3 separate regions of the Homo sapiens genome follow, and regions 1 and 2 are each reported to be linked to region 3. Evidence: microRNA targets listed by miRTarBase, many of them from high-throughput screens and not tested one by one. Region 3 holds a microRNA gene; each other region holds the end of a gene's coding sequence.
Evidence for each region. The annotated mature microRNA hsa-miR-4446-3p reads CAGGGCUGGCAGUGACAUGGGU and lies in region 3 at 2,048-2,069, shown strand. An mRNA with a match to its seed (bases 2 to 7 or 8) in the 3' UTR can be bound and repressed. Matches are read on the target gene's strand: a 7mer-m8 pairs with bases 2 to 8, a 7mer-A1 pairs with bases 2 to 7 and ends in A, and an 8mer does both.

Region 1: miRTarBase lists SERPINH1 as a target of hsa-miR-4446-3p. Seed matches in the 3' UTR shown: 7mer-m8 at 3,072-3,078.
Region 2: the mRNA of CABP7 is a reported target of hsa-miR-4446-3p. Seed matches in the 3' UTR shown: 7mer-m8 at 621-627 and 8mer at 1,995-2,002.

What each region holds. Positions count from the first base shown.
Region 1 is chr11:75,571,467-75,575,521 of GRCh38, reverse strand. SERPINH1 (serpin family H member 1) reads right to left here. Exons shown (of 5, transcript NM_001235.5): 5 at 2,739-3,741. The coding sequence ends at 3,439. Among named protein-coding and RNA genes, the nearest start is that of MAP6-AS1, 9.7 kb to the left of the region's middle.
Region 2 is chr22:29,729,356-29,733,410 of GRCh38, forward strand. It overlaps CABP7 (calcium binding protein 7), which reads left to right. Exons shown (of 5, transcript NM_182527.3): 5 at 87-2,478. The coding sequence ends at 214. It overlaps ZMAT5 (zinc finger matrin-type 5), which reads right to left. Exons shown (of 6, transcript NM_001003692.2): 6 at 1,601-1,999. The coding sequence ends at 1,870. Among named protein-coding and RNA genes, the nearest start is that of CABP7, 11 kb to the left of the region's middle.
Region 3 is chr3:113,592,871-113,596,935 of GRCh38, forward strand. MIR4446 (microRNA 4446) reads left to right here and starts at 2,006; the gene lies at 2,006-2,072. SIDT1 (SID1 transmembrane family member 1) reads left to right here. Exons shown (of 25, transcript NM_017699.3): 10 at 135-178.

The sequences.
Region 1 (4,055 bases), not on the chromosome of region 3:
GACAACAAGCCCCGTGCTGCAGGGACTGGGGAAAAGATGGGTGACCGCCCCCTGCAAACTGTGGAGCATGGAGCTCACACACGTCAGTAACTTCTCCTTCCTCTACAGCCAGGAAACCTGGGTTCCCATGTGAGCCAAGCTCTGTCACTGTCCTGCTGGGTGGCCTTGAGCTGGTCACTTCCCCTCTCTGAGCCCCAGTTTTCTTGTCCATAACATGGAGCAGTAATAGCTACTCTGGAGGGAAGTCTGAAAAGTAAATGAAATCATACATGGCAGTGCCAGGCACACAGTAGGCACTCAGGAGAAGGCTAATCCGCATCCACATCTGGGACCCGCACAATCCAACAGGCTTATTATCTCCCAAGACTTTAACAAGCACCAGGGTGAGAATAACAGGGTAATCCCTCCAATGGCCTCCAGGCAGCAGGAAAGCTCCACACAGGGCAGTGATGGGGCACTGGGGGGCAGCAACACTGGCTGGACCAACCTCTAGACCCCACCCCACCCCTAACTCACCCACCTCTGCCACCTGCACTGCCACTCACACACCAGCAACTCCAGTCCTCACGGACGGGTGTTTGAGATGCAACAGCACAGACCTCTTACCACCCTCCCCACCTGAGTCAGGATGGAGGAGCGTGGCCTCAAGACCCCCTTTGGGTCCTCTCGGTGGCCCCACACCCGGGCCTGGCTTATTTTACTGCCCATTCCCACTTGGTGGGGGAGCTGTCACAGGCTGAACTTCAGGGCCAGGAGGCCTGGGTTCCAGCCCAGTCTCTGCCTTCTCTGAGCTACACCTTGTAAAGTTAGGATGACTTCCCACCTAACGGGGCTATTGCAAGGATTAAGAGAGATGGATACAGATCGTATGCAAGTTAACATGCCTTCATTACTAGAATCTGTGCTCAGTGCTGGGTTCCAGGCACTGTGTTAGGGGCCTCTCCTGCCCTTCCTATGTGGCGAAGCAACTACCCAACCGACTAGGATCTAGTCCCAGCTCGGCCCCCACTGACTGTAGGGCCTCAGGCAGCTCACTTAACTGCTCAGCCTGTTATCTCACCTGTAAGATGGGGACAATCCCTACCTAACTAGCCAAGCTGTTAGGAAGCTTGGATAAAATTGTACATATTAAGTATTTGGCACATAGGAAGAGCAAAACACAAAGGCGTACCAGCTGGTTGCACTCAAAGCATTATTCTGATCCAGAAATGCCTACTCACCCTTTAAAGCAGCCCCCATATCACCTCCTCCTGGGAGCCTTCCTCGATATGTGCATGATGCTAAAGCTAGGTGCAGGATTTGCTGCAATAGACAAACAGCCATGGACCCTCTCTTCATGGAGCTTCCATTCTAAGAGGGGAGGCAGGCAGGGAAGTCTTAAGTGGGTAATTTCATAGTGCTAAGGAGTCAGTAAAGTGAGAAATCATGGTAGAGAAACTGAGGTGGGAGAGGGACTGCTTGTGTAGGGTGGTCAGGGAAGGCCTCTCTGAGCAGACGTTTACGCTGAATCCTGGATGACAAAAAGCAACCCTGCAAACATCTACAAGAACCGCCTGCCAGGCAGAAAGGACAGCTAGTGCAAAGTCCCTGAGGCAGGGGGACAAGCGTGGCACACCTGGAACAGAATGATCCAGGTGCCTGGAACACAGTGAGCACTGAGTACCCTATCCCTAAGTCTCCACCTCTAGACAAAGCCCCTTGAGGATAGAGATCTGAATGATTGAGCCGAAGCACAGGATGGCCCTGGGACTCTGAGCAGTCTTGCTGAAACTCTGTCGTGGCAATGATGGGAGTGAATCAGCTGGCCCTTCTGCAGACCCATGTACATCTTGGTGGCTACTGCTGGATTGCTCAGCCAGGTAAGGGGTCCCTTCCTGAACCAACAACCCCCAGGTCACAATCTTTGGCAGAGGAAAGCTGGACGTGCCCAGAGAGAAAAATGACCTGTCCTAGGTTAAAAGGCCAGCAGGCAGCAGAAATGGGCCTCCAGCCCAATATCCTCTGCTCCTCTGCCTCCCTGGCCACTGGCTCTGTTCCGTGCATCCCTCTCTCTCCCTAAGGTACGGTGTCAGGAGCCCTAAGGACCATGAGGCATCCAACCGGAGGACTGTGTCAAAAAGGACCGTGTTGGGTGCCTCCTCCTCCCCTGCTACAAATCCAACACTTCGGGCCACCTAAGGGCAAGGATCCCCACAATCTCCTTCCAAAGCCCAGCCCAAAGCCAGGCAACTTACTAAATGTGTGCCTGAGTTTGTACCTGTAGCCCTGGATGTAGCATGAGGTCAGCGTGCAAGGAAAGGCTAGGGGAGCTGGGCATAGTGGCTCATGCCCATAGCCCTGCCTGTAGTCCCAGCTACTCAGGAGGCTGAGGAAGGAGGTTCGCTGGAACCCAGGAGTTTGAGTCCAGCCTGGGCAATATAGCAAGATTCACATCTTAAAAAAAGGGTAAAGAAAGAAAGGCGAAGAGGCTGAAGACTGGCTCCAGGTCCAGTGCTCTCATTCAGGTCCTGCAGCTGCTACTTCTCCAGGGCTGCCAGAGCCAGAACCATTTCCCGGGTCAGCACGGAATGCACCTGCCACTTGGCGCTGTCTGCACAGTGATCTGCCAGCGATCTGCCAGCATTCCAGGGCCTGATATGAGCCATCAGTAGCGAGTCTGCCTTAACAGGAGACCTTGTCCCCTGGGAAGAATGGTGTAAGAATCTCCTGATCCAATCTTCTTCCACGCTCCAACAAAATGTCATTGGAAAAGTTTTATTGAAAAAAAAAATGTACAAATAAGTTCTTGGATTGATAGCAACAAAGGCTCATGTTCCCCCTTCCCTCCCTATCTTTGAAGAACTAAAAAAGGAAGAAACAAAACAAAAAGTTCATCCCCACAACGCCAGACACGATGCTTCTTGACCAGAGTCTGCCCAGAAGCCCCTCCTGGGAGCTCCTTCTCAATCCGCCTCACTGCGGCCAGGTCATTCTGGGGGTGCCTGGTCCCAGGGGCTGCAGCACCTAGTTTTATAGTTGGGAGAGGTTGGGATAGAGCTGGGGAGGCAGCTGAGGTGTTTTAGTGTCAGAAGAGGGCTGGCTGACCCCCCTAGCTCAATTTGGTCTCACAGGTGAGAAGGTACCTGGCTATAAATATGAATACTGATTGAGGCAGGCTTGATCTGGGACTTTCAGGGCAGGCAGAATGACTATGGCCCAGGTCCCACAGGATGTGGAGTTTCCGGGCTCAGCATCATGGTATCTGGGGCCCATGTCCAAGTGGAGTGAATTCTAGCTGGGAAGGTCCGCTCAGGCACACGGGAACCCCGGTCTGTTTTTCCACCCCCACCCCATGGAGTATCCAAGGCTGGTACCTCACCTCCCCCCCAACCCCAATAGCACCCATGTGTCTCAGGAGCCTTTGGATGCCTCCTGCCATCCTGTGTGCACCCTGAGGCCCTATAACTCGTCTCGCATCTTGTCACCCTTAGGCCGGACCAGGCGCCCAATGAATAGCAGGGAGCCGCTTTGGGTGTCCCGCACTAGGAAGATGAAGGGGTGGTCGGCGTAGAACAGCTTGGGGCTGCGCAGCTCCTCGCGCCCGTAGATGTCCTGGTCAAAGGGGTTGCCATCTGTGTCCAACTCAAAGGCGGTGGCGTGGAACACGCTGGCCAGGTACAGGTCCTTCTTGCCTGACATGCGTGACAAGTCGGCCTTGTTCTTGTCAATGGCCTCAGTCAGGCCCAGCCCAGCCAGGTGTTTCTGTGGGAACAAGGAGGTGTGCCAGGTGAGGCCATGGCTGCCAGGCTCCTCCACCCTCAAACCCTCCACCCCATACTACCCTGACCGCTCCTCAGAGAGGAGAGAACCACCCCCTGGTCACCTTCTGTATGCCAGGCATGGCACTGGCACTTCAAATCACAGCTTTCTCAATTCTCACTGCAACCCTACAAGGGCTTCTAATTGCCACTTCACAGATGAGGAAGCTGAGACTCAGAAAAACAAGTGAGAACGTATCCCGGCACTGCCCAGCTGCAGTTCAGGGACAGACAGCATGGGCACCACCCAGGAGCTTA
Region 2 (4,055 bases), not on the chromosome of region 3:
CCATGTGCCGAAGGGCAGGCGGCTCCTGACTCCATCGCTTTGATGTCCCCTTCTGTCTCCCCGGTGCTCCCGGCGGGCGGCCACAGCCTGCTCCAACCAGCAGATCCGCCAGACTTGCGTGCGCAAGAGTCTCATCTGCGCCTTCGCCATCGCCTTCATCATCAGTGTCATGCTCATTGCGGCCAACCAGGTGCTGCGCAGTGGCATGAAGTAGACGCCACCTGGATGCCCCATCCACCGCATGCGGTGCCCGTGGCCCGCCCCACACCACCGCCGCCTGCAGACCTCTCCCTTGGCCGGCTCCCTGGGCCGCCATCTGCGTGTACTTCAGGGCCTGGGTATCCAGCGAGCCCTCCCCACCCACCCACGGTCCTCACCTGGAGCTGTGGCCTGGCTGTGGAGGGCCGGGTGGTGGCTCTGAGGATGGTCCCCAGCCCCACCCTGTCCCCACCCTGGCCTGTAAGGAGCACTCACTCTTCCTACCATCCAGGGGCTCCTGGGAAATTAAGGAGGGATTTGCACAGGAACCCCCAGGACCCAGTCGCTGCTGTGGTCCCTTGGGCAGGAGCGGGCACCCTGTGCCTTGAGACAGCAGCCTATCTGGGGCCACACAGCCAACCCAGCCCTGGTCCCTGAGGTCTGCCCAGGGCACAGGGCACAGGCAGGGACAGAAAGCCTTCTCCTGGGGGAGGGTGGGAAGCCAGGGTGTCCTGGGCCTTGCTGCCTGGCATAGCCTGAGGAGGCCCCTGGTCTTCTCCTTGGGCCCCTTCCTCTGACCCTCGTTGGACCCCAACCCAGACCCCCTTTTCTCCATGTACCTGCTGGGCCAGCCCATTTCACAGGTGAGGAACCCGAGGCTCAGGGCCCCGAGACTTGGCCTCAGTTCTTCCTTCCACAGGGATTTTCAGGAAAGGCAGAAGCTCGTGGAGGATGGGCATCTGAGGTGGCCCTGCAGCCCCCCACCTTCTGGCCCTCCCACCAGAGGCCCAGCTACCAAGGCCACATTGTCCACCACCCCAGCCTAGAGCCTAGAACTGTAGTCCAGCTGAGGAAGGAGGCAGAGCTGGGGCCTGAAGGCTCTGAGCAGCCTCCAGCCAGGGGGCTCCTCCAGGGCTGAACTTTGGGAGGGCCCCTGTACTACCTCCTGGGCCAAGAAACTGGCACAGCCCCACACTGTCAGTGCCAAGAGGCTGCGCCAGGCCACTCTCTCAGCCCAGGGCCTGCCCTCCTGTCCTCCCACTTCTCTACGCCCTCAAGGTTGGAGACCCCGCTCCCATGCCCCAGCTGTGCCATCCCAAATACTTGGGCAGCAGCTCAGCATGGGCAGACATGGGGGCTGTGGATTCTTCCAGGGCGGGGATGGCAGATGGAGCCCTTGGGCTCCTTGGGCCTAGAGCCACTTCTTACCAGGCAACGGGCACAGCCACCCTGGCACACCCTCTGCCTGGCCGTGCTGAACCTCTGCTGGTCCCAAGGGAGAAGGGAGTGAGCGTGGGTCACCTGGGGAAAATCTCATCTGATTCCCTCCTTGCCCGACCTCTGCTAGGGGCTGGAGAACAGAGCTCAGAGCACCCAGTGTAGGGAAACACAGCCAGACCACTGTGGTGACAGACTTTCTTTATAAACATTTGGAAGTTTTCTCCCCCATCTTCTTAAGAAGCAGGGGGGCAGGTGGAGGAGAGTGAGGGGAGAGCTGCCCGGTGCAGACCCAGGACGAGGGCTGCACTTGGTGTGGCCGTGTCCTGAGCCTCAGTGAGGCTGGGCAGATGGTCTCGGAGCCTCCATGGGGCGTAGCAGGAACCGGGCTTGGCTTCCTATTGTGACTGATGAGAAAAGTGACCACGTGGGGGTCAGTCGGGGGCAAGGGGCTCAGCCCCACTGGACTCTGGGCTGCAGAGGCCACCCCCCAGGTGGGGGTGCCCGCAGGGATGGAGGCAGCTCCTGAACTGGTGGCCAGCCCACGGGGTACTGGAAGACAGTGGTTCTGATGGGTTCAGCCCTAGAGAGAGAGAGAGAAGCGGGGAGAATAAGAGTGCACTACAGCCCAGGCTTATGCCACCCCCAGCCCACCTGCCTCACCACCCTGGCTGTGGGGAGGGTCAGCTGCCTGCATGACTTTTCTGGAAGGCAGAGCCTCGAAAATAGGCAGACCGTTTGAGCCAGCGACCTCACCTCTAGGAACTGAGCCCAAGGAAATAGCGGGGTTGCAGGCAGACATTGAGCTGCGAGACAATGGGAATAACCTTCGTGTCCACCTGTGGGGGACTGATTCAATACATATGCACGTCCACAGCAGAGAATGCCATGCGGCCTGTGTAAGAATTAAGGCAGATTTATATGCACTGATGAGGAAAGACATACTGTGTGATAGGGAGAAAAAGCAGCTTATAAAATAATGTATATAGCATGATACTATTTTTGTTTAAAAATATATAAAATATATAAATGCATAAAAAAATCCTGGAAGACACAGCAAAATGTTAACAGTGGTCCTATCTGAGTGGTGCCATTATGGGTGACTTTTTTACTCCTTTATATTTCTCAAAAGTTTTACGAGCACACAAGCCTTTGAAATCAGAAAAAAACATTGTCTAAATTTTTTTTTAAAGCCTAATTTCTCATGCTACTCACTGTCCTCCTCCTCAACGTCCACCCCGAGCCACCTCCCCTGGAACTTGGGGTCCATGTAAGTACTTGCCCTAGGAGAGGCATCCTCCGTGCCCAGCCCGGGGCACCCTGCCAAGGCCCAGCGATGGCCCCCCAACCATTCTTCCACCTGTCCCATACTCAGATCCTTCTGGCCTTGGGCCCCACGCATGCTGCTTCTCCAGGGCCGCATGGCCCTTCTCAGGCTTCGAAGTACTTTGAACCTTTGAGCACTTTGAACTCCCATCACCCCAGCTGCCTATACAAGACCTTTCTGGAAGGCAGAGCCTCAAAAACATGCAGACCCTTTGAACCAGCAACCTCACCTCTAGGAACTGAGCCCAAGGAAATAGCAGGGTTGTGGGCAGCCATTGAGTTACAGCAATAGCCGTGAGACAATGGAAGTAGCCTTCATGTCCAGCTGTGGGGGACTGATTAAGTACACGTGCACATTGGCCGGGCGCAGTGACTCACGCCTGTAATCCCAGCGCTTTGGGAGGCCAAGGCGGGTGGATCACGAGATCAGGAGATCGAGACCATCCTGGCTAACATGGTGAAACCCCGTCTCTACTAAAAGTACAAAAAAAAATTAGCCGGGTGTGGTGGGGGGCACCTGTAGTCCCAGCTACTTGGGAGGCTGAGGCAGGAGAATGACGTGGACTAAGGAGGTGGAGCTTGCAGTGAGCCGAGATCGCGCCACTGCACTCCAGCCTGGGCGACAGAGCGAGACTCCTTCTCAAAAAAAAAAAAAAAAAAAAAAAGTACACATGCACATCCACATCCACAGCAGAGAGTGCCATGCAGCCGCCGCCAAAATTCAGGCAGGAGCTCATCTGTCTTCCACTTAGGACTGGAGTCCCCAGAGGATGTAGACCAGGGGATAGGGGTAAGGTGTATTTGTACCCCAAGGCGCAGGGCCAGGCCTGGTGCCAGGAGGCCACCCAGTGATTGTGGAACAAACAGCAATGCTGAAAGATCTTACTGACCAGGTGCTATTCTGGGCCACACACCATGACCTAGAGAAACCTTAAGAATCCTCAGGCGAACCCCATTTTATAGATGAGGAAACTGAGGTGCAAGGAGTCAGTCACGTGACCAAGTGACACCCTCGGGATGAGGCCTGAGGGCCTGGAATACCAGCCCCACATCGGCTGCAGACACGGCCTTCCCACTTCAGCTCCCTCTGCTCTGGCACACTCCCACACCCCAACATCCAGCCTTCAGGCAAGGTGAGGCCCTGGCAGCTCCTGGCAGGCTCAGGGGCCCAGTGGCCAGCCCTCTGCAGAGAGAGAAGGGCTTGGGCCTGCGGAGAGGGGTTTGGAGAGGCCTCTGACCTCCGAGGGGGAGGTGGAGAGCCGGGGTCAGGAGCCCTGGGAGTTTCCCCTGCTGCACCCACCCAACCTGCCCCT
Region 3 (4,065 bases):
CCACCGCACCTGGCCCCAAAGACATGTTTTGAAGAGATCCTAGTAGACAAATCCGCAACAAAATCTATAAGGAACAAATGTAAAATGCTGAGGTTTTCACTGTCTTAGGAGCATGTGTATGTGCTTGTTTGCAGGTTTCAGAGAAAATCCATTGATGGAAGCTTTGGGTCCAATGATGGTAAGAGCAATGCTTGGTTTCAATTCAAAATGGTGTCGCATAGTGTGGCAACATCCCATTTCATGCTTCTTTTACCTCTCTGCCTTTTGCAATTTACAAACCCTCCCTTGATTCCTATCCCGCAGAGTAGTCTAGCCTGCAGTTGGAAAGCAAAGCTAGTGAAAACCAATTCTATAGTTCAAGAGGTCCCAAGCCCTAGGCCGTGGACTGGTACTGATCCGTGGCCTGTTAGGAGCTGGGCTGCACAGCAGGAGATGAGTGGCAGGTGAGCAAGTATTACCACCTGAACTCCACCTCCGCTCAGATCAGTGGCAGCATTAGATTCTCATAGGACCGCAAACCCTATTGTGAACTGTGCATGCGAGGGATCTGGGTTGCGTGCTCCTTATGAGAATCTAATGCCATAACCCATCCCCACCCCCGTCTGTGGAAAAATTGTCTTTCATGAAACCAGTCCCTAAATATTGGTGCCAAAAATGTTGGAGACTGCTGCTGTAGTTGATAATTATTGAGACGTGGAGCTCACACTAAAAACCTTTACTAGGAGTGTCCCTTGTAATCACAGATCATTGGTCAGCCATTCATCTTTTTTAAAAGTTTCACCTTTTCTAGGACATAATTGTTCATACCTGTCCTATCCCAAAGCTGATTTGTGAACAACAGTAAGAATGTATTGTGCCAACTCTGATACATGGTTTACTTTTTCCCAAACTAAGATGGAGGCTTTCTTAAGTGTCTAGAAAACTGAAATACTTGACCCTAGCAAGTATAATAAAGAGTATAATAACTTGGGGGAATCCAGAGTAATTGACTATCCAGCAATTGTACTATGCCTTTTCCTCCACTCTGAGAGTTTGAACAAAAGAATTCAATGACCTGATCTTTTTAACAAAATTAAAAATTTAAATGTCCTCATTTTTGAAAAACCTAAACTCAGTGCTCATAGGTTATTTGGCATAGAGCAAGAATTTGGTTAAAGAGGAATATGAAGTGGAACTTGGTTTTTAAGTCATACATAGCAGATGTTTAGGTGTGTGTTTTCCACACTTAAATGAGGCCACAGAATCTTAGAAAGACTTTAACTCACCCCCTACCCCCCTCCAGCAGGATCATTGCTCCCTTTGCTGGAGAGTTTGCTTTTTTCTTTTTAATGTTTGTCTTCCTTAATGTCAGCATGCCTGTTTTTCCAGCCACCCAAGCACTTTGTTTTATAAACATTCAGCTGTCAATATAAAAGACTATAAAAGAACACCTGCTCTCGTGGCTTTAAAGTGCTAAATGCTCCTCTCCCTTTTAGTCGTCAGATGTTTAAATGAATTTGTCTGCTCTCTGGATGTCATCTTTTTTCCTACAGGAAAAAAGTTTTGTGCCTCCAAGTTTTGTGATTAGTTTAGGCCTAGTTGAACTTAGGCCTACATCCAATCGATTGAATCCCATTGGGTAGCCTCTGAATGGTTAGTCTGTTATTTTTTATAGTATGAGTGAAGTCTTTTTATTATAATAATATTTATTGAAGGAATTCTGCATTCAGAAGGGTCTGTTGAACATTGAAGCATAAGTGGACAAAGCTGGGACTTGAGCCAGATCATTGTCCAGGTTCAGGGAGGCTCTGAAAATTAGCTAAGAGCTGGAGGTACCCTTCTGATGGTAAGCGGAAACAAATGAGTGACCAAAAAGAGTAAAGATGCATCATTGAGATTCATGTGGCTGTAGGTAACCACAGCAACAAGAAAAAAAAAATCTCAAACCTGCTTAATCAAGAAAGAGACTCCTAGCTCTGGAAGTAGAGCCAAAAGATGTACTTCAGGATTGATGAGTCCAGTGGCTCTGGTCCATTTCCCTGCCATTCCCTTGGCTTCAATTTACTCCCAGGGCTGGCAGTGACATGGGTCAAGGCTCACACCTTCACCTGGCAGCACCAGAGGGAAGGACCTTTTAAGAAGCCCTCAGCAACTTCTTGTGTTTCATTGGCCTAGAGTGAATCATACACTTATTGTTAAACCAGTCACTGCAAAGAACAGATTTACCTACACATCAGATAAACCTACTTTCAGAATTAAGATTAGGTCCTCTTCTCTAAGACCAGAGTTTCTCAAACTCAATATTATTGACATCATAGGCCAGATAATTCTTTGTTGTTGGGGGCTATTCTGTATCTTATAGGATGTTTAATAGCATCCTTCACTTCCGTGCACTAGATTCTAGGAGTTGCCCCTCCTTGGGACAACTAAAAATGCCTCCAGGCTTGGTGCAGTTGCTCATGCCTGTAATCCCAGCATTTGGGGAGGCCGAGGTTGGAGGATTGTTTGGGCCTAGGAGTTCGAGACCAGCCTAGGCAACATAGTAAGACTTCGTCTTCATAAAAACAAAAAATAAACAAAATTAGGTGGGCGTGGTGGTGTGCACCTGTGCTCCAGCTACTTCGGAGGCTGCTATGGGAGGATCGCTTGAGCCCAGGATGTTGGGGCTGCAGTGAGCTGAGATCGCACCACTGCACTCCAACTTAGGTGACAGAGCAAGACCGTGTCTCAAAAAAAAAAAAAGCCTCCAGACATTGCCAAATGTCTTTTTGGGGGCAAAACTCTTTCCCCACATCCCCCTGTTTGAGAACCATGGACCTAAACACATGAAGACACCTAAATAACACACCAGCTTAGGTAAGAAGTAGGGAATAGGAATATTCACCACACAAAAGTCTTGAAATAGGAAGAAAATAAGGAACCTTTGTAAGGTAGAGAGGCCACAGGGAATGATGGCATCACCCCCAATGTCATGACCACTGGTGAGTCAAGACCTAGATGCTTAAACCAAGAGCAGAAGACAAGCACTGCCCAAGGGAAGAACCAGTGACTTTTTTAGGCATCTCAAACAGAGCATAGAGAAATCAACCAGGAGCAAGAGACAGAGGCAAGTAAGGACCATATCTGGAAGCTAGTGACAGACATTCAGGGAAGAAACAAGGATACAGAAATGTCTTTCTCTCCCAAGGCCAGGATCAGCATGACCATGGGGCACAGGAAGTTCGATGGAGCTCAGAGTTACAGGAAATGCCTTGGGTGCTTATATCCAGAGAAAATGCTAGAAGCAGCTTCTTAAAGGGGAAGAGGATCCCACTAGACTTAATACGGTCTCTGCCCACATCATTGTGGAGCTAGATATCTGTGGAACTTAGCCTAAGGCTTTCACCTTAGACGTGACTGAAGTGGAAGAAATGGAATCAGGTCCCTACAGGTTGCCAAATTGGTGGCAGCTCTGTTGGAGTTAGGAAGGATGCACTCAGAAAATCTGTGCGCTACTCTGCATTTGTTTTTCTTTGATATGCCTGAAGTGATTTAATTAAGCTGTATGTGAAAATCTCCATGTTAGCTCCAACTATAATAAAAAGCAAAAAAATGTATTTCATACTTCATGGGATGAAGAAGAAGATTAGACCCTGGAGCCTGGGTGAGATGGAAATACTGTTGGCAAAGAGCTGCTCCAGGGGACTTGAAGGGACTTTTTTACTGTACTATGAATGACTGGACCCTGTATTGTCTAATTATCCTTAATACCAAAGACAGGGCATCTGTGAGAATCTGAGAGGTACTAAGAAAGGCTCTGTGCTCTAAAACCATTTCCTCCACTGGCTTTATCAGAGAGAAACCCCACATTTCACATCATTGTTAAAGAGCCTCTACAGAAATTCAGTTACCAGCTGAGAAAAATAATGAAGCCTCCCCAACAGGCCTCTGGGACCCCTTGAGTTGCCACCAGGAACTGGGGTACAACAGAAGAGGAGGTTACTTTCTCAAATGCAAGAGCTTGGCAGGCCTAATCGGTTGTAGATTTAAGAACCAAATGGCCAACCCAATCCTTCCCTGGATACAGCCATTACTGAACCAGCCTCT